7 linked regions of the Homo sapiens genome follow. The protein of the gene in region 7 interacts with the protein of the main gene of each other region in a pairwise test. Each region holds a gene or a part of one and is shown on either strand. Other genes may lie near its edges. The genes, in order: TSPOAP1, RAB3IP, DLX2, ZBTB32, NNT, TENT5C and MVP.

Evidence for each region.
Region 1: the proteins of MVP (region 7) and TSPOAP1 interact in a two-hybrid assay, tested with the Homo sapiens proteins (one large-scale study listed by BioGRID).
Region 2: the proteins of MVP (region 7) and RAB3IP interact in a two-hybrid assay, tested with the Homo sapiens proteins (one large-scale study listed by BioGRID).
Region 3: the proteins of MVP (region 7) and DLX2 interact in a two-hybrid assay, tested with the Homo sapiens proteins (one large-scale study listed by BioGRID).
Region 4: the proteins of MVP (region 7) and ZBTB32 interact in a two-hybrid assay, tested with the Homo sapiens proteins (one large-scale study listed by BioGRID).
Region 5: the proteins of MVP (region 7) and NNT interact in a two-hybrid assay, tested with the Homo sapiens proteins (one large-scale study listed by BioGRID and IntAct).
Region 6: the proteins of MVP (region 7) and TENT5C interact in a two-hybrid assay, tested with the Homo sapiens proteins (one large-scale study listed by BioGRID).

What each region holds. Positions count from the first base shown.
Region 1 is NC_000017.11:58,311,796-58,315,295, reverse strand, and holds part of TSPOAP1 (peripheral-type benzodiazepine receptor-associated protein 1), read left to right. Parts: intron 1-2,573; coding exon 2,574-3,404; intron 3,405-3,500. UniProt on the Homo sapiens protein: Required for synaptic transmission regulation. It probably controls the recruitement of voltage-gated calcium channels to the presynaptic membrane, and modulates neurotransmitter release.
Region 2 is NC_000012.12:69,818,860-69,821,279, reverse strand, and holds part of RAB3IP (rab-3A-interacting protein isoform alpha 1), read right to left. Parts: 3' UTR 1-2,420. UniProt on the Homo sapiens protein: Guanine nucleotide exchange factor (GEF) which may activate RAB8A and RAB8B. Promotes the exchange of GDP to GTP, converting inactive GDP-bound Rab proteins into their active GTP-bound form.
Region 3 is NC_000002.12:172,100,101-172,104,108, reverse strand, and holds the start of DLX2 (homeobox protein DLX-2), read left to right. Parts: upstream 1-1,208; 5' UTR 1,209-1,570; coding exon 1,571-1,970; intron 1,971-2,462; coding exon 2,463-2,647; intron 2,648-3,164; coding exon 3,165-3,566; 3' UTR 3,567-4,008. UniProt on the Homo sapiens protein: Acts as a transcriptional activator. Activates transcription of CGA/alpha-GSU, via binding to the downstream activin regulatory element (DARE) in the gene promoter.
Region 4 is NC_000019.10:35,707,558-35,711,057, reverse strand, and holds part of ZBTB32 (zinc finger and BTB domain-containing protein 32), read right to left. Parts: intron 1-3,500. UniProt on the Homo sapiens protein: DNA-binding protein that binds to the to a 5'-TGTACAGTGT-3' core sequence. May function as a transcriptional transactivator and transcriptional repressor. Probably exerts its repressor effect by preventing GATA3 from binding to DNA.
Region 5 is NC_000005.10:43,655,180-43,658,679, forward strand, and holds part of NNT (NAD(P) transhydrogenase, mitochondrial), read left to right. Parts: intron 1-660; coding exon 661-894; intron 895-1,473; coding exon 1,474-1,634; intron 1,635-3,500. UniProt on the Homo sapiens protein: The transhydrogenation between NADH and NADP is coupled to respiration and ATP hydrolysis and functions as a proton pump across the membrane. May play a role in reactive oxygen species (ROS) detoxification in the adrenal gland.
Region 6 is NC_000001.11:117,616,048-117,619,547, forward strand, and holds part of TENT5C (terminal nucleotidyltransferase 5C), read left to right. Parts: intron 1-3,500. UniProt on the Homo sapiens protein: Catalyzes the transfer of one adenosine molecule from an ATP to an mRNA poly(A) tail bearing a 3'-OH terminal group and enhances mRNA stability and gene expression.
Region 7 is NC_000016.10:29,826,962-29,830,461, forward strand, and holds part of MVP (major vault protein), read left to right. Parts: intron 1-3,500. UniProt on the Homo sapiens protein: Required for normal vault structure. Vaults are multi-subunit structures that may act as scaffolds for proteins involved in signal transduction. Vaults may also play a role in nucleo-cytoplasmic transport.

The sequences.
Region 1 (3,500 bases), on a different chromosome or scaffold from region 7:
GATTTAGGAACAGGCTTAGCTCTGAATCTGTAACCCTGGAAGCTTGGGAGCCTGCTCAGTTTCTTTTCCCTGGGTCCTCTGCCTGTTACTTGAGGAGCTGCTGAGACCCATGGTACCTGGCTTTGTGGCCTAAACAGTTAAACTCCCTACAGGGGTAGATTATGAAGATCAGAATTAAAAAGCTTTCAGGAAAATAATACTTTATAAATGAAGAAAAAAAAACCCCACCCAAATCAAAAACCAAAACCCAAACACTTTATTTTTGGAGGGGGCAGCAAAGGCATAAGTATTAACTAACCACAAATGACTAGAATTTGAACTCTGCGATCTGGGATAAATTGGGATAGATGTAAATGCCACCGGGGGCAAGATGCCGTATTCCCTGTCCAACCTTAGCTAAAGGACTGCTTCGTCTATGTCTGGGCCACCTAGGCTGTTCTCAGCTGCATGGGCTTCTGGAGCATGTGCCTGACTCCGGCCCAGGCTCCAGCTTCAGCCCTGCAGGCTGGAGATCCTCTTAGTGTGAAGACTCCTGCCTTTGTCTCCCACTCCACAGTGCTGGTGCTTATGATCGTTTCCTAGGGCTGCAGGAGCAATTACCATAGAGTGGCTTGAAACAATAGACATTTATTCTCTCACTGGCCTCTTCTGGAGGCCAGAAGTCTGAAATCAAAGTATTGGCAGAACTGCATCCCCTTGGGGGCTCTAGGGGAGGTTCCGTTCCTTGTCTCTTTTAGCTTACGGTGGCTCCAGTTGTTCCTTGGCTTATGGCCACCTCACTCCAGTCTCTATCTGTGGTCACCATTGCCTCCTCCTCTTAGTGTTTCTCCTCTGCATGTCTCTTATAAAAACACTTGTCATTAGATTTAGGACCCACCCGGATAATCTAGGATGATCTCATCTCAAGATCCTTAACTTAATTACATCTGCAAAGACGCTTTTTCCAAATAAGGTCATGTTCACAAGTTCTGGGGATTAGAACATGGACATGTTTTTGGGCGGCCACCATTCAACCCTCTACAGTGCTTATTATATCAGTGAATTTATTGACAGTCCCTCTTGTTTCTTCAAGTTCCTTACTTTTTTTTTGCCTAGCATAGGCAGAGAGAGAGAGGGTGGAGGTGAGGGGCACAGATGACTGTTGGGGGAAACTCCAGGCCCCCCTGCAGCTCAGACCTGCCTACACTCACCCCTCTCCCCTAAGCCCTGGCTCGTGCTCCCCCTTCCTCTCAATAAAGCACACCAGCTACCAGCTGTCTGTTTCCTGAGACCTTTTTTTCTTCTTTAAATTGACCGTGACATTACATGCTGGGTGCCCAGCTTCCTTGACATCCCTCAATCAAACAACAGCAAATGTTTTAAAATACTCTCTTGTCAAGTCTTCAGGAGAACTGATGCAGGTAACAAAACATAACCATTGGTGGTTGCCTGGATTGACTGCTGTCAATCATGCTGCTAGACACAGGCCTGCTGGGGCTCCTGATCCTTCTAGAACTTACAAGTGACTATTTCACTAGCACTTACTTCATTTGTCTCTAAAGATTCCTCCTTTACCCTGCTGAGTTGGTTGTCTCTCTCTCCCTCTGTGGATGTCTGCTGTTCACAAAGAGAAGTTGAGGGGCACCCTGGCCCCTATTCCTCAGGCCCAGGTAAAACCCAACCAGCAGAATTTTTTTTTTTTTTTTTTTGATACAGCATCTTGCTCTGTCGCCCAGGCTGGAGTGCAGTGGCGCGATTATGACTTCTAGCTTCTGCCTCCCGGGCTCAAGCAATCCTTCCACCTCAGGCTCCTGAGTAGCTGCAACTGCAGGCGTGCAACCACTCCCAGCTAATTTTTGCATTTTTTGTAGAGATTGGGTTTTGCCATGTTGCCCAGATTGGTCACAAACTCCTGGGCTCAAGCGATCTGCCTGCCTCATCCTCCTGAAGTGCTGGGATTACAGGCATAAGCCACCATGCCTGGCCAGTTTTCTTATCCTGACCTGCTTATTTTTTAAAACTTTAATATGAAATTATGAAATTATTATTGCAATTTTTAACACAAAAGTTTTCAAATGTACAGAATATATTTGAATATTTATATAGCCAGCACCTAGATTCAACAATTGTTAAAACTTTGGCATATTTGCTTTATATGTAGGTTAAACATGATTTTAAAAGCATTATGATATTTTACCTTGAAATACTCAACATGCTTACTTAGAACATGATATTCTCCTCCATCCTTGCAGCTTGAGTGTCACCTGGTGGCTTATTAGAATCACAGAATCTCAGCCCCATCCAGACCCAACCGAGTTAGAATCTGCATTTTAACAAATCTGTAGGTGATTCATATGCAAGTTAAAATTGAAGAAGCACTGTCCTATAGAACCAAAATACTATTATCAGACCTATCTCTAATCCAGATCTTTACTGCTCTTGTCTTTTAAAAGAATTGACAGTTAAATGTTGATTTGAATCAAATGCTGAAGATCACCCACTAGCAGTTGCTAAAATGCATTTATTATACCGTTTTTTCTTTATCTCCTCTCTGTCTTCCCCTGCCCTGCCCCTTCCTGTCCTCCTCCTGCCAGGAGAGCTCATGGATGGCCGAAGGGGCCTGGTCCCTTCCAATTTTGTAGAGCGTGTGTCGGATGATGACCTCCTGACCTCCCTCCCTCCAGAGCTGGCCGATTTGTCCCACAGCTCAGGCCCTGAACTCAGTTTCCTGAGTGTAGGTGGGGGTGGCAGCAGTAGCGGGGGCCAAAGCAGTGTGGGAAGGAGCCAGCCCAGACCTGAGGAGGAGGATGCAGGGGACGAGCTCAGTCTGAGCCCATCACCGGAGGGCCTGGGCGAGCCTCCTGCCGTGCCTTACCCCCGCCGTCTGGTGGTCCTCAAGCAGCTGGCCCACAGCGTGGTGCTGGCCTGGGAGCCGCCTCCTGAGCAAGTGGAGCTACACGGCTTCCATATCTGTGTGAATGGGGAGCTGCGACAGGCCCTGGGGCCTGGGGCGCCACCCAAGGCCGTGCTGGAGAACCTGGACCTGTGGGCCGGGCCCCTTCACATTTCTGTCCAGGCCCTGACTAGCCGGGGCAGCTCTGACCCACTGCGCTGTTGCTTGGCGGTGGGTGCCCGGGCCGGAGTGGTGCCCAGCCAGCTGCGGGTCCATCGGTTGACAGCCACATCTGCTGAGATCACCTGGGTGCCCGGCAATAGCAACTTGGCCCATGCCATCTACCTCAATGGGGAAGAGTGCCCACCTGCCAGCCCCAGTACCTACTGGGCCACCTTCTGCCACTTACGGCCTGGCACACCCTATCAGGCCCAAGTGGAGGCTCAGCTCCCACCCCAAGGGCCCTGGGAACCAGGCTGGGAGAGGCTGGAGCAGCGGGCTGCCACCCTGCAGTTCACCACACTCCCAGCAGGTATGTGGGCTTGGGCCCTGTTGTCCAGAACACCCAGGAGGCCAGGCCATGGGTGACGGAAGAAGGGGACCCTGATCTTATTTGCGTTATCAGGGA
Region 2 (2,420 bases), on a different chromosome or scaffold from region 7:
AATAGTAATCTAATCTAGTTGTGATTTGGGTTTGCTTTGGTATTGACATTTCCTAGAGAGCTCCAACAGATACAGATAAAAGCTGAGCTGCTGCGGTTAAATCTGGGGATGTGGTGATGGGGGCCCTGTATCCCTCGAGACTGTCCCTGAGACCTGTAGCTCTAGAATCTAGTCCTCATGACCTCAGACGTTCCTCCAAAAGTAAACTGTGTGTGAACTTGTGCTCCCTTGAGAAGCTGCCTTTAGGAAGGGTTTCAATTCTTTTAATATTTTATCAAGTTTAGTCCTCTTCTACATTTTTTTTTTAAGTTTTGCAAATTTTCATGGAGTTTTTTAAAGCTTTCATTGTTATTTCTCTGTTAACAACTACCACTATGAAAACTTGATTTTCTATTGAGTTTGGGTTTTTTTTTTTTTTTTTCAGACGGAGTTTCACTCTTGTTGCCCAGGCTGGAGTGCAATGGCGTGATGTCAACTCACCACAACCTCTGCCTCCTGGGTTCGAGCGTTTCTCCTGACTCAGCCTCCCAAGTAGCTGGGATTACAGGCATGCGCCATCACACCTGACTAATTTTGTGTTTTTAGTAGAGACAGGGTTTCTCCATGTTGGCCAAGCAGGTCTCGAACTACCAACCTCAGGGGATCCGCCCGCCTCGGCCTCCCAAAGTGCTGGGATTACAGGCATGAGCCATCGCACCTGGCCAGTTTTTTTTTTTTTTTTTTTTTCTAAGTGCAATGGGAAGCCACTCAAAGGGCTTTAAGCAGGGAAGTGACATTATCTGATTTTCGTTTTATAAAGATCCCTGCGGCTGCCGTCAGTGATTGTAGGAGGGCAGGAGTGGATGCAAGGACAGCAGACATTAGTGCAGGAGTTCAGGTGAAAGATGATAATAGCTTGGGCAGAGTGGTAGCAGTGGACATGGAGGGAGGTAGACAGATTTAAGATGTCTCGGAGACAGCTGATGGAATTTGCTGATAACTGGAATGGGAGTGACAATGACAAATAAAGGAACCTAGAATAAGCCCCAGAATTTTGCTTAAGCAACTGAGAGTTCAGCCATGGCAGATCTGTTAAGCACAAAAGTTAAACACAAATACAAATTCATACTGCATTGGACTCTTTTAAGCAGTGTCTTATAGAAAAAACATTTTATCTAGGGAAAAATGCAACAACAAAAACCACTGAAAACAAAAGCCTATGAATAAAAGCAGACCCGTTTTAGACTGGATGCACAAAACAAAAACACACAGGATTCTTGTGGTGGCGATGGGAGTAAGTGAAGACGTAACAGGTTGCAAGTTATTTTAAGGACTAAGACCCAATGTTCAGAAACCAAATCTTGTTCTTCCAGTGTGGATGCTTAGTCAAAGACTGTAAATTGTCTTCAAGCTGAGAGAGACCATGAAGAGAGAGGAGTGGCCACCTAACTAACCTTCCCAGTTTTTGGGAGCCAAACCTAGACCAGAATGTAGGTCTAAGTGACTCCCAATCCAGAGCTGTCTCCATTAGGCCAGGCTCTCACCCCAGCTCCAAACCAACTTCTAAAAACTTGTCCAAGAGTCCTCCTCTTCTTTAGAATTGGTAATCTTGGCAATTAAATTCAGCGTAGAAACACTCTCCTGAACATAATCAGCATGCTGGTTCTTCCTTTTCTGTTGCCTTGCTCTTCCTAACAGCTCCTCCTTTCGTCTTTGCAGGCTGCTTCTCTGTCACAGGAACTCAGGGCTCAGTGCTGTACTTCATCTCCAAAGTGTCCCTAAAGCGCCCATCTGATCCCATGGCTAACTACTCCCCAAATTTTCTCCTGGACTGACCTTACTGAATTTAGATTTGTACATCCAATACCTGCTTAACATATCCACTTTGATGCTCAGTGGGCACCTCACACTTGATCTGTCAAACACTGAATTTCTGTCTCTGTTATGCACATACCCAAACTTTCCCCACCATGTATTTCCCCATCTCAATAAACTGCAATAGCTCAAGCCAAAAGCCTAAGATTCAGACCTGAATTCTTTCCTTTCCTCTCTCTCAAATGCAATTCAACAATTTTCTTACCTTTTATTTTTTGTTTTGGAATGAAGGCACATATAACTGAGCTAGTAATAATGCTTGATTCATAATACACCACCGATGTTCCATGCATAACTCTCTTATTCATTTGTCCATGCATTTATTTTGTTTTTGAATTTTTTTAAAGGGGGGCAAGGTCTACGTTGCCCAGGTTGGAATATAGTAGCTATTCACAGGTGAAATCATAGCACACTATAGCCTTGAACTGGCCTCAAGGATCTTCCTATCTCAGACTCCCAAGTAGCTGGGACTATAAGCACGCACCACTACACCCAGCTCATGTACTTACTTTTAATGACAAATGAACCACCCCAAAACCCACCACCTAACCCAGGGACTAAAACAT
Region 3 (4,008 bases), on a different chromosome or scaffold from region 7:
GGGGGGTTTCAGAGGCTGGCGCCTGGGCGTGATTAGACCGTCTACCCCGCCCCCCGCAACCTCGCACACTGCCCACCAGGTGGCGCCACAAAGCAAGCGCTGCCGCAGGAACTTCGGACTTGGGAGTCCAGCAAGTCGTGCAGTCCATCACCGTCGGGCCAAGGTTTCCAACTACAAGGTTATAGAGACAGAGGAAGTCACCATTTCCGATTTTTTAAAAAACAGAGGGAAAAGAAAAAAATTGCAATGATAGGGTAGAACAGGGTCCTAAAATGCAAAACTGTAAAACAGGATTAAATTCAACAAACCAGATAAAACTTTTTATATTTGTTGTAAATTTACAGAGAAGTGATAAATCTAGTATCTACTTGATAAATCTATAATCTCACCTATTATCCTATTTCCTTTTTCGCAAGAGCATCGAATTTTCAAGGACAACTGGTGAACCTTTCCACCCGAAGGAGGAAGTCCTCGGGATGGCTTTCAGGGTGTCATTTACTTATCAAACGTATATAATTACTCAGAGTCTCGCGTGTCGGGAAAGTACCAGGGAAAGTGGTTTCAAATATACTATTAGCAATAATACCTTTAAGTTTATGTAGCTTCTCTTTGAAGCAACAAGGAAAACCCGTTTCAATATTATATGATTAATTGTCCTAATATCCCTGCGGATTGGTTAAGAAGCGAGCATTACACGTGGTTTGTGGATAATTAAATCAATTGATTATGTCAAGTGCCGAGTGGCTAACAAGAATAAATGCCAGACACTTCGAGGAAAAGTGAAGATAGAGCTGGCTGGACTCTGGGCACCGATGTACTTTAATGTGTTTGAAAACTGACCTCGGACATGAAAGTACGAATCACTGGAACTGGCACTTGCTCACAGAATGGGAGAGGGGACCCCACTTCTTCCTCTGAGGCAAAACGCCAGTCTGTCTCCACGCCTTCTGTCTTCCTGCTGCGGGCCACCCTGACTCCTCGCTACCTCGACCCCTCGCCTCGCTGCTCACATTCGGCGGCAGTCTGTTTGCACCTGGGGCCGCTGCAGCCGCAGCCGCAGCCACAGCGCCCACCATGTGACGCCCGCCCCTTGGCCGGGCGTTCCCGGAGCTCCGCGGCCGTTTGCTTCTGATTGGCTGTTGCTAGGTGACGTCGCCAGCGCTCACGTGACGAGTGTTAAATGCCCACACTTCAGGAGCCCGCCTGGCAGACAATCGTAAAGCCGCTCGGGGCCGCTCACCTGCTCCCGCCTCCCAGAGCCCCGACCCGGCCCAGCCACCCCTGCCCCCTCCACTGCCCGCCCCCCGCCAGAGCCCGCGCTCGCGCTGGGCAAGGAGCCGAGCGGGCCCAGAGGCCGAAAGAGGATGCGACCAGAGGCAGCTGTCCCGAGCAGCGCACGGTGATCGCCTCCCCCGGAGGAGGAGGCGCCTAGACGGTTGCCTCCTTTCTTGTTTCCCCACCACCACCCCCGTAATTACATTGGCTGCTGGAGGGGACCGGGAGAGACAGAGGAGGCGCCTGGCTTCCCCCGCACGCCCGCCACCTCTGCTCTTTCCCGTCTCGGGCCAGGATGACTGGAGTCTTTGACAGTCTAGTGGCTGATATGCACTCGACCCAGATCGCCGCCTCCAGCACGTACCACCAGCACCAGCAGCCCCCGAGCGGCGGCGGCGCCGGCCCGGGTGGCAACAGCAGCAGCAGCAGCAGCCTCCACAAGCCCCAGGAGTCGCCCACCCTTCCGGTGTCCACCGCCACCGACAGCAGCTACTACACCAACCAGCAGCACCCGGCGGGCGGCGGCGGCGGCGGGGGCTCGCCCTACGCGCACATGGGTTCCTACCAGTACCAAGCCAGCGGCCTCAACAACGTCCCTTACTCCGCCAAGAGCAGCTATGACCTGGGCTACACCGCCGCCTACACCTCCTACGCTCCCTATGGAACCAGTTCGTCCCCAGCCAACAACGAGCCTGGTATGCATAACGCTGAAGTCAAGAGTGCCGAGTCGGTCTAGTTAATGGGATGGATGGGTAAACGTGTTTGGGGCGGGGGGCCTTCGAAAGCTCTGGATTTTCACGCTGCCTGCTCACCGCCCGCTTGTGCCCTTTACCCTCCCCAGCCTCCAATCTGCCGCAGGTCGCCGGTTACGTCCCTCTCTCCTTTGGTAGGACCTGGTGGCCTCAAGAGCCAAGTGGGCGTGCTCTGCCTGCCTCATAAGGGCATCTCCTTGCCACCAGCTTCTTTCTCTTGGGTGTGCACTTGTCTCCCCCTTCCCTGGAGGGTACAGCTCCCGGGGTCGGTGGCGGCTCCGATCGCACGCTGCGAAGTTGCGCCTGCCCGTGGCGCCACAGTTCAGTGCACCCACCTCTTTGCTCAAGCCAAGTCCCCCCCGCCGGGCCCTCTAGGAGGGCGGGAACTCCAGGACCCCTGGGTTGCGCTGTTCTTACGATTCTTTATCGTTGCAGAGAAGGAGGACCTTGAGCCTGAAATTCGGATAGTGAACGGGAAGCCAAAGAAAGTCCGGAAACCCCGCACCATCTACTCCAGTTTCCAGCTGGCGGCTCTTCAGCGGCGTTTCCAAAAGACTCAATACTTGGCCTTGCCGGAGCGAGCCGAGCTGGCGGCCTCTCTGGGCCTCACCCAGACTCAGGTGGGGCTCGCGCCCTGCAGGGGCGAGGAGAGCGCGGGCCTGAGATGGCTGGGAAGCAGGCGGGTTTAGGACAATGCTTTTTAAAGTTCATTTTAAGTACTTTTAAGGATTTCCAGGCCTGCGCCTCGAGCGGCCCTAAGTAAGCTTCTAGGCCCAAAGCTGGAAACCCCCAAGGGGCCGCCGTGGGAGGGAAGGAAAGGGACCGGGTGGACAGAAATCCCGTACCTCTCGCTACTGATTAAGCGGGTGAAATAACTGGCCCTCCTCACCCTCCCGCTGTCACCATCATCACAGTGCACGTACACCAGCAGTCCTGGCCTTTTGGCAATTACCTCCCCAGGGAGCAGGAACCGGCAGAGCCTCGAAGGCCGCCGCCCGTGATCCTCTTATCTCCCCAGGGCGCTCGCTGCCCACCGCTAGCCAGCGGTTTTTCTCTGCCTTCTTTTTTCTCCTCTTCGAACCCCTACTGCCCCAAGACTAGGTTCCTCCACTAATGCTCAGGTCTTTTTCCTCAAAGGTCAAAATCTGGTTCCAGAACCGCCGGTCCAAGTTCAAGAAGATGTGGAAAAGTGGTGAGATCCCCTCGGAGCAGCACCCTGGGGCCAGCGCTTCTCCACCTTGTGCTTCGCCGCCAGTCTCAGCGCCGGCCTCCTGGGACTTTGGTGTGCCGCAGCGGATGGCGGGCGGCGGTGGTCCGGGCAGTGGCGGCAGCGGCGCCGGCAGCTCGGGCTCCAGCCCGAGCAGCGCGGCCTCGGCTTTTCTGGGCAACTACCCCTGGTACCACCAGACCTCGGGATCCGCCTCACACCTGCAGGCCACGGCGCCGCTGCTGCACCCCACTCAGACCCCGCAGCCGCATCACCACCACCACCATCACGGCGGCGGGGGCGCCCCGGTGAGCGCGGGGACGATTTTCTAACCCCAGGGAGAACTCGCCAGAGACTGAGAGCAGAGACCACTTATCCTCATTGCTTACCCCGAGCCGGGGTTCCCTCCTCCCGGCCCGCTGCCGCCACCCACCTCTCCTGCAGGCTGCGACCTGCAGTGGCCCGTCTCAGGCCCTGCTCACTCCCGGGGCCACCAAACGGGCCCCTCTCTCGGGGGAACCGGACAGCAGCTTGGCAAAGGCCTCCCTAAAAGGCCGCATTTCTGACCTGAGCCCCGGGTCTCGGCTGTTTCGAGCCCCGCCTCGGACTTGCCTTCCCTCCCCTCCGGGTGAGCCTGTCTGGCGCCTTCCTCGCCCCGGGCTGAGAGCTGGGTCCCGGGAGATGGAAGCCTCCCAGGCGCGCGAGGCTTCCCGGGCGCTCTGAGGCTTCTTTCTCCTCGCCCGCTCCCCTGGGCTCAGCTCGGACGCTGCAGTT
Region 4 (3,500 bases), on a different chromosome or scaffold from region 7:
TGGGCTTTCGGGGAACCTAAAAGGGAGGAGGGGCAAGGGAACTCCCCTTTCAGTGAACAAAAGCCCCCAAGAATGGGGAACCCCACCTAAGGATATCCCCTTAGAGACCGCCTCCTAGAATTATCTCCAGGGCCCTTTGCACTGCAACCCTTATGCTGATGACACCCTGAGCACTTCTCTAGCCTCTTCCTGCATTCTTGACAGTGCAACCCAAGCCATCCTGCACTGAGCACAGATGGCAGAAGCAGACAGCACTTTGACTTGGAAGAGTAGGGACACTGCTGGTGCTGTTTTGTTTTTATTTTGAGACAGAGTCTTGTTCTGTCACCCAAGCTGGAGTGCAGTGGCGCCATCTCGGCTCACTGCAACCTCTGCCTCTGGGTTCAAGCGACTCTTGTGCCTCAGCCTTCCAAGTATCTGGGGTTACGGGCATGCACCATCACACCCGGCTAATTTTTTTGTATTTTTAGTAGAGATGGGGTTTCACCATGTTAGCCAGGCTGGTCTCGAACTCCTAACCTCAGGTGATCCACTGCTGGGATTACAGGTGTGAGCCACCATGCCTGGTCTGTTGCTGTTCTTAAAAGTACTCCCCCTCCCTAGACTCAAAAACCTTGCCCCCCCTTCCTCTTCCTGGGCTGACTCGGTAGGAATCATCTGCAGTTGTCTCTCTGGAAAGAGCAAAGAAACAACAGGTTATGCAGACACAAGCCTGTGTCCTGCCAGAGGGTAGAGCAGGTAGAGAGATTAGGTAGGGCATGATTGGAAGGGGAGTATGTGATAAAAGGCAATATGATATCAGCCTCTCAGTCCTTTTTAATACTTATATTACTTTCTTTTTTTTTTTGAGACAGAGTTTCACTCTTGTTGCCCAGGCTGGAGTACAATGGCGCTATCTTGGCTCACTGCAACCTCCGCCTCCCGGTTCAAGCAATTCTCCTGCCTCAGCCTCCCAAGTAGCTGGGATTACAGGCAACTGCTACCATGCCTGACTAATTTTTTGTATTTTTATTAGAGATGGTGTTTCACCATGTTGGCCAGGCTGGTCTCAAATTCTTGATGTCAGGTGATCCACCCACCTCGGCTTCACAAAGTGCTGGGATTACAGGCGTGAGCCTACATGCCCGGCCTAATACTCGTATTACTGAATAAAATTTGAAATCTGATTTTTTTTTTTTTGAGACAGAGTCTTGCTCTATTGCCCAGGCTGGAGTGCAGTGGCGCAATCTCGGCTCACTGTAACCTCCGCCTCCTGGGTTCAAGTGATTCTCCTGCCTCAGCCTCCCGAGTAGCTGGGATCACAGGTGTGCATCACCAAACCCGGCTAATTTTTTGTATTTTTAGTAGAGACAGGGTTTCACCATGTTGGCCAGGCTGGTCTCGAACTCCTGACCTCATGATCTGCCCGCCTTGGCATCCCAAAATGCTGTGATACAGGCATGAGGCACCACGCCTGGCCTGAAATCTGATAGTTCTTATTCTTACTGGTAGACTTGACCAATGGGACACTAAGGGAAAAATGTGCAAGGGGCTCGGGGCACACCCTGGCTGCAAAGTCAAAGCTTCCCAGAAATCCTTGTATCATGAACTTCTTGAGGCACAACCCAGCTTGATGTAACAATGTCAACACAGCAACACAAATACCAATTCTCCTTAAATATTATAATTAAAATCAAACCATCAGAATAGACCAATGGGAGGGATGATCATTTGTTTTGTGAAAAAGTTCTCCCTCTATTTCACTTATTTTAAATATCAAGCCCTCTTCCCAAGCCAAGTTGAACAAGATTCAATTTAGAAAAATTCTGTGAACTCGCCACTCTTCCCGTGAACCCATCTCTTTCCACAAATGAAGGTGGTTAAATTCCCCACAGCATTTTATATAGATTAAGAGCGATTATCCAAATCTTACATGAACTTTAAGTATGTTTACTCTTTCGCCAGGCGCAGTGGCTCACACCTGTAATCCCAGCACTCTGGGAGGTGGAGGCAAGCGGATCATCTGAGGTCGGGAGTTCAAGACCAGCCTGACCAACATGGAGAAACCCTGTCTCTACAAAAAATAAAAAAAATTAGCTGGGCGTGGCGGCACATGCCTGTAATTCCAGCTACTCGAGAGGCTGAGGCAGGAGAATCGCTTCAACCCGGGAGGTGGAGGTTGCGGTGAGCCGAGATCGCGCCATTGCACTCTAGCCTGAGCAACAAGAGCGAAACTCTGTCTCAAAAAAAAAAAAAGAAAAAAGAAAAAAGAAAAAAAAGATGTTCCGTCTTTCTGGTTAAGTACATCCAAGACTTCCAGAAAAGAGTCACCACAAGGAGTGAATTAGTTCCCTTTTTCCCTTAAATTTGTGCTCTATATGATCCAAGAACCAGCTATAGTCATACCCAGGTGAGCTGAATCTAGCCCCTTCATAGCACACACTTTGTGGATTAACTGGAAAAAGAACTAGACTAGAAGTTGGAAAACAGGTTTCACTGCATCCCTTCACAGTGAATGGCCCTTCTCTTCAGCACTCATATGGAGCTAAGTCTTCCAAGACCCTCAATTTCCTCACAGGGGCTGTTTCAAGACCAGTACAGAATACTAGTGTTGACTTAAACCTGGGCAAAGGGTCCCATTTGGACCTCCTCTGGCTGTATCCCTTCGCATAGGCTGAGTCAAAAGGCATCTAGAAAGTGCCTACCCGGAACTGTGAGCTCCCACCTCACTTCTGGACCATGCTCTGAGAACTCAGCACCCTGGATTTCCTGGACCAAATGACTCTGAGGCCCCCTACACAGGACTCAACCCCAGGCCTGTATTCATGAGAGTGGACTCTGACTGATGTACACACACGCTAGACCCTGATTTTGTGTAAGGGATTTGTAGACTGAGCTTGGATGTGCAGGCTAGAATGTGAGACACCTTGAAGTATGGGCCAACACCAGGCATGGGAAGAGACGAGGGAGTCTCTGTCATCTTGCCCAGGCCCCATAAATAATATAGGAACCTACTTTATTCCAATGGTTCTAAATCTCTTAGGGAGTCACCATCAGGTTCAGAATGTCACCCATGGGACTAACTCTTCTTTTTATTGAGACAGAGTCTCCTTCTGTCACCCAGACTGGAGTGCAGTGGCACGATCTTGGCTCAGTGCAACCTCTGCCTCCCAGGTTCAAGAGATTCTCCTGCCTCAGCCTCCTGAGTAGCTGGGACTACAGGCACGCACCACGACACCCGGCTAATTTTTGTATTTTTAGTAGAGATGAGGTTTTACCATGTTGGCCAGGCTGGTCTCAAACTTCTGACCTCAAGTGATCCACCCGCCTCAGCCTCCCAGAGTGCAGGGATTACAAGTGTGAGCCACCCAGCCTGGGACCAATTGTTGACATTAGAAAATGGTAGACACAGGCCGGGTGCGGTGGCTCACGCCTGTAATCCCAGCACTTTGGGAGGCCGAGGTGGGCGGATCACAAGGTGAAGAGATAGAGACCGTCCTGGCCAACATGGTGAAATGCCG
Region 5 (3,500 bases), on a different chromosome or scaffold from region 7:
AATATAAGGGAATTTGATTAGAGATTTAGGTAGTCTGAAGAAGTGTTGGCTAGGGGAAGGTTGGGAGTTTGTGACGGGAAGAGGCACGCATTGATGCTGGGTGTTCATTGGAGTTGGGTCGTGCTTAGGTGTGTGGAGAAAAACTGCTGTTTTGAAAGGGTATACAAGTTGAGCATCTTTAATCCGAAAATCCAAAATGCTCCAAAATCCAAAACTTTTTGAGTGCTGACATGACATCACAAGTGGTGAATTCCACACATAAATACTTAACACAAACTTTGTTTCAAGCACAAAATAATTTAAAATGTTGTTTAAAATTACTTTCAGGCTATATATATATGAAACATAAATGAATTTTGTGTTTAGACCTGGGTCCCATTCCCAAGATATCTTATTATGTATATGAAAATATTCCAAAATTAAAAAAAATTAAAATCTGAAACACTTCTGGTCCCAAGCATATCAGATAAGGGATACTCAACCTGTATACAACTAGTGCCCTTACCTTCTGTACAGCCCCTGTAGAGAATATTTAGCCCGTACTAGGAACTAGATAATATTTATTTGTGACAATGGTGGAAATCCTTAAGGGTGATCTTTGTTGTGGTTACTTCTCAAAAGTTTGTCAAGTTTTAATTTATTTTTGACCTTTCATAACAGGATTGACAATTGCCAAACGCATCCAGATTTCTGATTTACCTCAATTAGTTGCTGCTTTTCACAGTTTAGTGGGTTTGGCAGCTGTACTTACTTGCATAGCTGAGTACATTATAGAATATCCACATTTTGCTACGGATGCAGCAGCAAATCTCACCAAGATTGTGGCCTACCTCGGCACTTACATTGGTGGCGTCACCTTTAGTGGGTCTCTCATTGCCTATGGAAAATTGCAGGGTAAGTGATTCAGCATAACATAGAGGTAAATATCTACTGTTTAGGGCATTTAGGGATCCATTTTAATTTCAGAAAATACATTAACAGGGCTGGGCGCAATGGCTCATGCCTGCAATCCAGCACTTTGGGAGGCTGAGGTGGGAGGCTCTCAAGCCCAGGAGTTCAAGACCAGCCTGGGCAACATAGCGAGACCCTATCTCTACTTTTTATAAAAAATAAAATATTACTACTAATAAAAAAGATTAAAAAAAATGCCTTAACAGTAAAACTGTTAGGTGAAGAGTATTCGTATAGCACTCAGAAATTGTAAGAGTTTTTTTCCCCTCATCCTTCCCCTTTATTGATACTTAGTAAGTCTCATAAAGCTTTGAAGCTGTTTCATTTGCAGACAGCTAATGGAGGAAATTAGTGAACAGAAATTTGCATGGAGGGACTAGTTGACTTTTGATAATATATGTGAACTAAACAGCATCCTCATAATCCTTGGTTAGAGATGACTGTGTAGAATTCACAGAAATGAACTTTATGTATTTTCTTACAACACATTCTGAATTGTAACTACTATGTGCTTGGCTCTAGGTCTCCTGAAATCTGCCCCTCTCCTACTGCCTGGAAGGCACTTACTCAATGCAGGCTTACTGGCTGCTAGTGTGGGCGGGATAATCCCATTCATGGTGGACCCAAGCTTTACTACTGGCATCACCTGTCTGGGTTCAGTGTCTGCTCTCTCTGCTGTCATGGTAAGAAGTCAGAGATTGAAAAGTACATATTTGGTGAAGAACTGGGAATATTTTGTTAGATTAAAGTGTAATCATATTTTTATCTCTTCAAGAACCTTGATGGAATAAAAATGTTTTAAAATTACGTCACATGTGCATCTTTTTAGAATCTGGAAAACATAGAAGAGTGTAGGAAGAACATTATTCTTTCTTGCAACTTAATTGTTCATTTTAAAGTTGTCACATGAGACACCTTTATTGCTCTGGAGTCTTTTCACCGGATCAATGTGTTGGTGAACAGGAGCTTAAAAAGGCCAAGGGTTTCAATGTATTAGGTGCCTACTATATGACAAGCCCTACAAAATAGTGCTTCGGGGTTTATACAATACAAGTAAGATAGTCTCTGCCCACCAGTTGCTCTTACATCATTGGAAGATATGACACGAAATCAAATAAGTATAAAATGAAATGCAGTTAAAAAACCCTGTATGCTCAGTGAGAGTATTCAGTGAAGGCTTTTATGATAGGTTTGGCTTTCTTCTTTCTCTGCAATTTTTATATTTAGTGTATTGAAACACACAGTAGTTTTTAGTTGTCTATGTGACAGTCTGGCATCTTATATCAATGTATGATGCTGTTTTATGCAGCGCTATTTACTGTTATTCACTGTTACTCATGTTCTTTCAGTGTGTAATCCGTAGACAAGGTTTATATTTAAGTTAAAAAAATTATCTACAGTAACTAACACAAAGTTAGACACATAGCAATTGCTTATGAAATACTTACTGGCTCCTTGATTGAGAAACACCTAATTTATAGTGTAAAAATGATACTTATTTTTGTGTGATCATGGCAGTTAGGTCATGATTTTAACACAGAAATTTTAGAACACTGAAAAGTAAATTAAAATCTCATCTTTATATTCACACTCATGGTCTAATTTTATTCTGGCTTATTGCACTGGTTTTTGTTTTAAACAAAAGAAAAATAATTTTGATATTTTTAATCTAATAAAGCAGAATAGGTTGATGAAGTCTCAAAATAAAAGATATACAAATGTGATTGGGTGAGGTGGCTCATGACTGTAATCCCAGCACTTTGGGAGGCCGAGGTGGGTGGATCACCTGAGGTCAGGAGTTTGTGACTAGCCTGGCCAGCATGGTGAAACCCCGTCTCTACTAAAAATACAAAAATAAGCCGGGTGTGGTAGTCTGCGCCTGTATTCCCAGCTGCTCGGGAGACTGAGGCAGGAGAATCGCTTGAACCTGGGAGGCGGAGGTTGCAGTGAGCCGAGATCATGCTATTGCACTCCAGCCTGGGTGACAAAGCAAGACTCTGTCTCAAAAAAAAAGAAAGAAAAAAAGATATACAAATCTAAAACTTTAAGAATTGTTGTTTTTGGGAAGCAGTGACTATGATATTTAAAGGATTTATTGGTTCTATGAGAATGTCTGACTAAGACAAAGTATTTTTTGAATTTATTTTATTGCTTTTGGCTTAAATGAGTAATACATGAATATGCTCTCATTGTAACAAACAAAAAAAGGTAAAAACATGTGAAATAAAAAGCAAAAAGCTTTTTCCTTTCATGTGTTTAGTAATTTCGAGTTGTATCACGGACATTGTTAATGATACATTATAGACATTTTGGATGTTATGTTATATTCCTTCAAAGGGTATTGATTATTATTATTTATTTATGTGTTTTTGTAGCCAGCTAACTTGGCTAAACTCAAATTCCAAATTTTGACTCCCTTATGGTGGGTGGTGGGGGGCAGCTGAAATCTATTGTTATTTTATCCTTAACAGGATTGCTTGGAGTCTGTCTCACATATGTGTAGTTCAAGAGTCATCCAGAGATTTGAGTAGAATTTATAAACAGAAACT
Region 6 (3,500 bases), on a different chromosome or scaffold from region 7:
GTCCACCTCCCATCCACCATGGCAGACCTTGAGCTTGGTGGAAGGGAGTCAGCAGTTCCCAGACACTAGTCTCGCAGTTGAGGACCTGGGGTCAATTCGCTTAATCTTTTCTGAACCTTATTACTTAATTTGTGAAAAAGGGATAGTTGTAGATTCCTTAGAGTTCCTATGAGGATTAGATGGGAATTGAAGTGAAGTGGCTCATACTAAGTACTATTTCATTTGCTTTGACACACACCTCTACACCCTTCATTTCACAAGCAAAGAAGAGATGGACTTGGAGTCGTGGTTGTCATTCACTCTTGTTAAGGGAAGAAGTGGGATAGGATAGTATGAAGTGTATTGCCACCACTTTTATTTCTGCTTATGTTCTCTAGGTTTTCATATGTAATGGAATGGTCTCTTTTTGTCTAAAGTGTCCTCTTGTACACGGGGGAGGAGTTTGTGTGGAAGATGTGTGGGAAGAGCCACAGGTGCACGGGTCCCCTGTTGGCCAGGAGCCAGGGCCCACAGGTGTCTTTGTTCCAGGTACACACTTCTCTTGGAGTCTGTCACCAGGCTTGGCGCATTGCCCAAGATTCCAGCTCTTACCTTGGGTTAGAAAGTTTTACTGGGAAGAACCACACATTTGAGGTAACATCCAGAAATAGTGAAAGAGAATTTGTCCCCAAAGGAAGGCTGAAATGTGTTTGATTTTCTTTTGTATTCATAAACCCTCAGGAGGGTCAGAAGAAGGTAACACTTAGTTGCCTCTGGACTGCTGAAAGCCCTCAATAGCTGAGAGCCTCAGTTCAAGCCTCAGCATTTTCCTGAAATTTTCTAGACAATCACTTCCATAGCTTTCATGTTAAAGGTCACAGACCTAGACTTAGATATATGCAGTCCTTAACTTGATAGATGTATGTCTCCACACATACTAAGAACCTTGTGGACGGTTTCTGTGTCTAATGCCAGGCACAAAATAAGAATTAATGTTGCTTTGACCGAATTGACTGTGTGCAAATGTTATAAATGCTCACAGTTACCTCCCCTCCAGCTCATGCACCTGCCTCTCCCGCTCGCCCACCTTGGGTTCCTCACACTTTCATCGTGTTTCTGGAGTTCACTGGCTAGTCCAGAGATCTAGATAAGCTATGAAGCAGGACTAGAAATAGCTTTTTTTTTTTTCTTTTCAGTGCTCAAACATAGGTTTTCAGACCAATCTGCGTTGAGCAGCTCTGTCCTGGGCAGTGGGAAATGATTAGATCAGACATCAAACTTTTTCTCAGGGACCTTGGTTTAACCTTCTGGCCTAGTTTGTTTTTTCCTTTCTTTTGCTGCTATCTCTGCAAACCTCTTTTTTTTTTTTTCCCTTCAGTGTGTGTATTCTACCTTTACTGCAGTCAGATAATAGAAGAAAAGGGAGTACGAAAGTACCTGAGATAGTTGGTCATCTTGAATTGTCAAAAACAAACCCTGAATTCTCAAATCTGCAGGAACAAATTATGGTTTCCACCTTTCCCCATTTCTACTGTATAAATATAATGAATCTGTTTCTCAAACAGTAAAAGGGAAATGAAACACTTTAATTTGAATTTACTAGGCTTCAAATTAATTTGTTCTCTATTTTGTTAATTCTGCTAACTAGAATTTGCCTTTAACCAGGGCCTTTCATGAATTGGGAATGTGTGTTCCACGTGATTCTTTTATATGGGGATTATATCAGTGTTGATTTAACGTGGTTAATTAAAACTAAAAACTGTTGGACTAAGCACTGATGTGTTACCTAAACACTGAGGGCCTATGACTTGGATGTATTCTAGTAATACCAATGTTTGTCTAAGTAACTTTAAAATGTACTTTTGGTATTTGAAATTGTTTGGACGAGTGAGGGACAATGAAGAATCCCTTTCTAATAGGCACAAGTGACTTATTTTATGCTCTTCCAATGAGCTAAGCACTTAGTATGAACTCAGCTTAAATTTGTGTCTTCAGTGGCTTAAACTCCTCTCTATGTAAATCATGGTAAATTGAGAAAGTGAAAAACTACGCCATGGACTTGGCATTTGTCATGTCCCACACTGTGCTTTTATACAGACTTTTTCCCCTAGAATTTAACTCCAATATTCATATATGTATGAGAAGAAGTTGTCATGGAAGATGCTAACCACAGGCATATTGTATTTCTGAAAAAAGTGTTTGTTAAAGTTTTTGCAGCTGTAGCCAGCAACCAACTTAACAGTATCACAAGGGTAGCTACATGTTTGAAATGAGAAATAGCAATTCTGTGAAACTGAAAAAAAAAATTTCTTTTGGTTAACATAGAATGAGATGAGAGGAGATGGATTTGCATGAATTAGAGAGTCTGAGGTTTTTTTTTAATGAGCATCTTTTTAAAAAGTATATGAGTAGAAACTTGATAGAAAGGCATTCTAAAGGAAAAGAGTCTCTCTTCCTCTGTTCATCCCCTTATCTGTAGAGATCAGCATTTACATCTTGGAGGTGAAGCTTCCAAGTGTACTTAATTTTGTCACATGGATGTGGGAATGCAGAATGTGGAATGTAGAGAGGAGGGGTGGGAAGGAAAAAGGGGATTGAAGAAGTTAAATAAGGCAGCAGGTGAATAGAAGGCTCCTAAGGGAGAAGCTTTAGGATCATAAGGTTTTAATTTTTCTTCAACTAATACATATATAGATTCCAAATTCAAAGGGCACAAAATAAGTTTTCTTCTTCTAACTTTGAATCTACTTCCCCTAAACTAGAGGAAGTATTTGGTACAGACTAAAACTACTACCTGCATATGTTTCCAGAGACTTTATATGCTTGTGTAAGCACAGACTTTAACAGTTTTGCTGTTAGCAGTTTTGCTATTAACTTGTTTTTCTATTAATGAGTCTTGATAAGCATTTCACAGTCATACAGAAAGAACAGCTGTCTTGAATTGTCATCTCGAATTGTTGAAAACAAACCCTGAATGCTCAAATCTGTAGGAACAACTGCATGCGTTTCTGTATTGTTTTATACACACATCAGATCATTTAACCATCTTCTATTGGTGAATACTTATAGCTTTATAAATAATTCTCCAATGAATATTTTGTGTATACTTGCAAATATACTAAGGATATAATTCAAAGTAGACTTACCAGAAGTAGAATCCCTATGTCAAAGAGTATATCTCCTTAAAATTAAGTGTCTTGTGTCCGGAGAGAGCCCACAAGCAGTATACTAGAGGGTGTCTGATTCCCACATATCAGACTTAGTGATCTTTGCCCATTTGATGGATAAAAATGATACGTTGAGGTTTTAATCTGCCCCTCTCTTAAGTAAGGTTGTGACTGTAATAGGTGTTTGAGATGTAGTTTGTGTCCTTTGTGTCTTCTCTGTTGGGGTTCTTCTGGTATTTCTGATTTGTTGAAGCTCCTTATTCATTATGGAAATGAGTACTTTGCCTAATGTTACAAATATTTTTCCTACTTTTGCCTTCTGACTTTATGGTGTTTTTGAATTATATAGTCAAA
Region 7 (3,500 bases):
CCAGCCCTCTGGACTCTAGGAAGTCGTCTTTCCAGAACAGAGCCCCGTATTGTGGAGCAACTGGGGGGTGGAATCAAAGGTGAGCAGGACAGGGCTATAGGAAGAAAAGACAAGGTCCCCATAAGAGTGGCGAGAGGAACAGAGCCAGGACATCGGAAAGCAAGCCCCTGTGTTCCCAAACCGCAGAAGAGGGAGCTCTGATGTTAGACAAGCCACCCTCCTACAAGCGAAGGGAAAGTAACTTTGAGCAAAAATGAGCAACAGAAAATGAGATCAAGGTCAGATCTCATACAAAGTTGCAAGATGAAAGAATGAGCAGCAGAATAACCTCCCTGTGATGTGGAAAGTGTGCCAGGAAAACAGACCCAAACTGTAACCTCTTTCAGAATGAGGCAAGGCAGTGAGGAAACTATGTGAAAACACGAAAGCAGCCGATCAGAGTTGTAAGCCCGGGCAGTCTGGGTTGGAATGGGTGCCCCGAGCCACGGGACCATGATGCCTCTCTAGAAAGACAGGACCAGGCATTCCACCAGGGTTCTAGTCCCAACAGCACCACTAACTTGCTTGTGGCCCTAAAGGATTCATTGTCCCTCTCTGGGTCTCAACTATTTAGAGCTCTACTGTCCAGTATGGGATCAACCAGCCATATTTGGCAATTTAAATTAAAATTAGCTGGGTACGGTAGCGTACCCCTGTAATCTCAGCACTTTAGGAGGCTGAAGCGGGAGGATTGCTTGAGCCCAGGAGTTCGAGACCAGCCTAGGCAACATAGCAGGACCTTGTCTCTGCAAAAAAAATGAAAAAATTAGCTAGGCGTGGTGGCACATGCCTGTAATCCCAGCTACTCGGGAGGCTGAGGTGGGAGGATCACTTGAGCCTGGAGGTTGAGGCTGCAGTGAGTCATGATTGTGCCACTGCATTCCTGCCTGGGCAACAGAACAAGACCTTGTCTCAAAAAATAATTTAAAAATTTAGTTCCTCAGATGCATTAGCCACATTTTATTTTATTTTTTTCCAAGACAGAGTCTTGCTCTGTCGCCCAGGGCTGTAGTGCAATGGCGAGATCTTGGCTCACTGCAACCTCTGCCTCCCAGGTTCAGGCAATTCTCCTGCCTCAGCCTCCCAAATAGCTGGGATTACAGGCACGTGCCACCATGCCCAGCTAATTTTTGTATTTTTAGTAGAGACAGGGTTTCTGCATGTTGGCCAGGCTGGTCTCAAACTCCTGACCTTGTGATCTGCCGACCTCAGCCTCCCAAAGTGCTGAGATTACAGGTGTGAGCCAGCATGACCGGCCATTAGCCACATTTTAAGTGTTCAGGAGCCACATGTGGATGTGGCTAGTCCAAAGACAGCACAGATTTAGAATATTCTCATCATTGTAGAAAGCTCTATTGGACGCTGCTGAGTAAAAGGGTTTTTTTGGTTTGGTTTTGAGATTGGAGTCTCGCTCTGTTGCCCAGGCTGGAGTGCAATGGCACGATCTCTGCTCACTGCAACCTCTGCCTCCCAGGTTCGAGCAATCCTCCTGTCTCAGCCCCCCTAGTAGCTGGGATTATAGGTACCCGCCACCACAACTGGCTAATTTTTGTATTTTTAGTAGAGACGGGGTTTCGCCATGTTGGCCAGGCTGGTCTCGAACTCCTGACCTCAGGTGATCCACCTGCCTTGGCCTCCCAAAGTGCTGGGATTACAGGCTTGAGCCACCACGCCCGGCCAAGTTAAAGGGTTTTTAAACAAGAGCTGGGCAGTGCAATGGCATAGCTGTAAGGCAGCAGGGGGTGGTGGGGACTGTGGTAGGTGGGAAAGCTTGTGTTCCATCTAAATGGGGCAGCTGCTGCTTGACTGTAGGCTGTATTGCTGGTCTTCTAATTCTTCAAGTGAATCAGGAATTGGGATTTTGTGAAGACTCACAATTTCTAAACAAAAAGTTGAAGTTTTACAGATCGTGGGGCTCAAGTATAACTCCTCTTGGGCTGTATCCAGCCTTGATTCTGTAATCTGTGGCTCCTGCCTGTTTTTCCTCGGCCAGGCCACTCCCTTCTTCCCCTCACTTATATTTTTCACCTGGGGTTGGAGGCTGGGTAGATGGTGGAATTGATGAGGAACCACTTTTTTTTTTTTTTTTTTGAGATGGAGTCTCACTCTGCCTCTCATAATGCTGGGATTACAGGCATGAGCCACTGCACCTGTCCTGGCCAGACATTTTTGAGGCCACCACCAGACAAAAGAGGCTCCTCATCGGCCAGGTGTGATGGCTCGCCTATAATCCCAGCACTTTGGGAGGCAGAGGCAAGAGGATTGCTTGAGGCCAGGAATTCGAGACCAGCCTAGGCAACATAATGAGACCTCATCTCTCCAAAAAAAAAAATTAGCTAGACATGGTGGCATGTACCTGTAGTCTCAGCTACCCAGGAGGCTGAGGCATGGCTTTTGTGAGCTATGATTGCACCACTGCACTCCAGCCTGGGTGACAGAGTAAGACTCCGTCTCAAAAAAAAAAAAAAAAAAAAAAAAGTCTGACCTGAGTCTCTTAAGGATGAGGCTCTGGAGCACCTAGTAAACTTGGTCCCATTTGTGTGACTCAAAGGGACATGTCCAAAGTCCAAAGTGCTGGGGGCAGGGGTGGGGCTTAGGTAGGGCATGTGACATTCCTGAACAGGCCAAGCACTGGGTGAAACTACTCAGGATTCAGAAGCAGGTGGGATGGGTGGGTGGAACATGATAATCATCCCCCTTCTCCTTCCTTTCCACCCTACCCTTGCTCACAACTGCAGGAGCTGAGGATGGGAGAGAACTGGGGACGAGGGGGCCAGAGTGATTTGCAGTGTTAGTAATGCAGCTGGTTCTATGGAAGGCTCAGTTCCATCTGGGATCCCTTTATGAGCAGTGGACTAGGTCTTCACATTCAGCCCAGGATTACTAAAGCATAGGAAAGAGGCAGGGAACATAGACACAGCTCATGTAAACATTCCTTTTGTTTATGGCCGAATCCTAGCCACTGGACTACCTGAGGCATACAGATATTCTTTGGCTATGGGCTGACATTTGAATACAGCTGGGGCCTCAGGATTCTCTGAAATAAAGGGCTGCCTCCCTCTGGAGGAGCCAGGCAGCTCCTCAGAGCAGCTGCCCATTGCGTGCTGGACAAGGCCATGTCACCACCTCCATGGCTCCCCAGTTTCCCAGCTTGCTGTATCTCTCCACCGTAAGAGACTGGGAGCACCTTGATCTGAAGCTCTTTGCAGTGCCGGTGGCAGTGTAGGGGGAAGTAGTTGATGGGAGTGAGGGAAAGGAATTGGCAAGGAACCCTGGGCCTCTGTGGCTCACTGCATCAAGCAGTTCTTGGCAAAGGTAAGGTCAGGATGGGCTGTGTCGTCTTGGGTGGGGTGAAGACAGGGAGCAGTGGGCATGCAGATGCGGACAGGGAAGGGTGCAGTGGCCTGGCTGGAGGAGGTAGGGCCGTATCCCACCCAGAGTCTGTCACCAGATTCATGCCT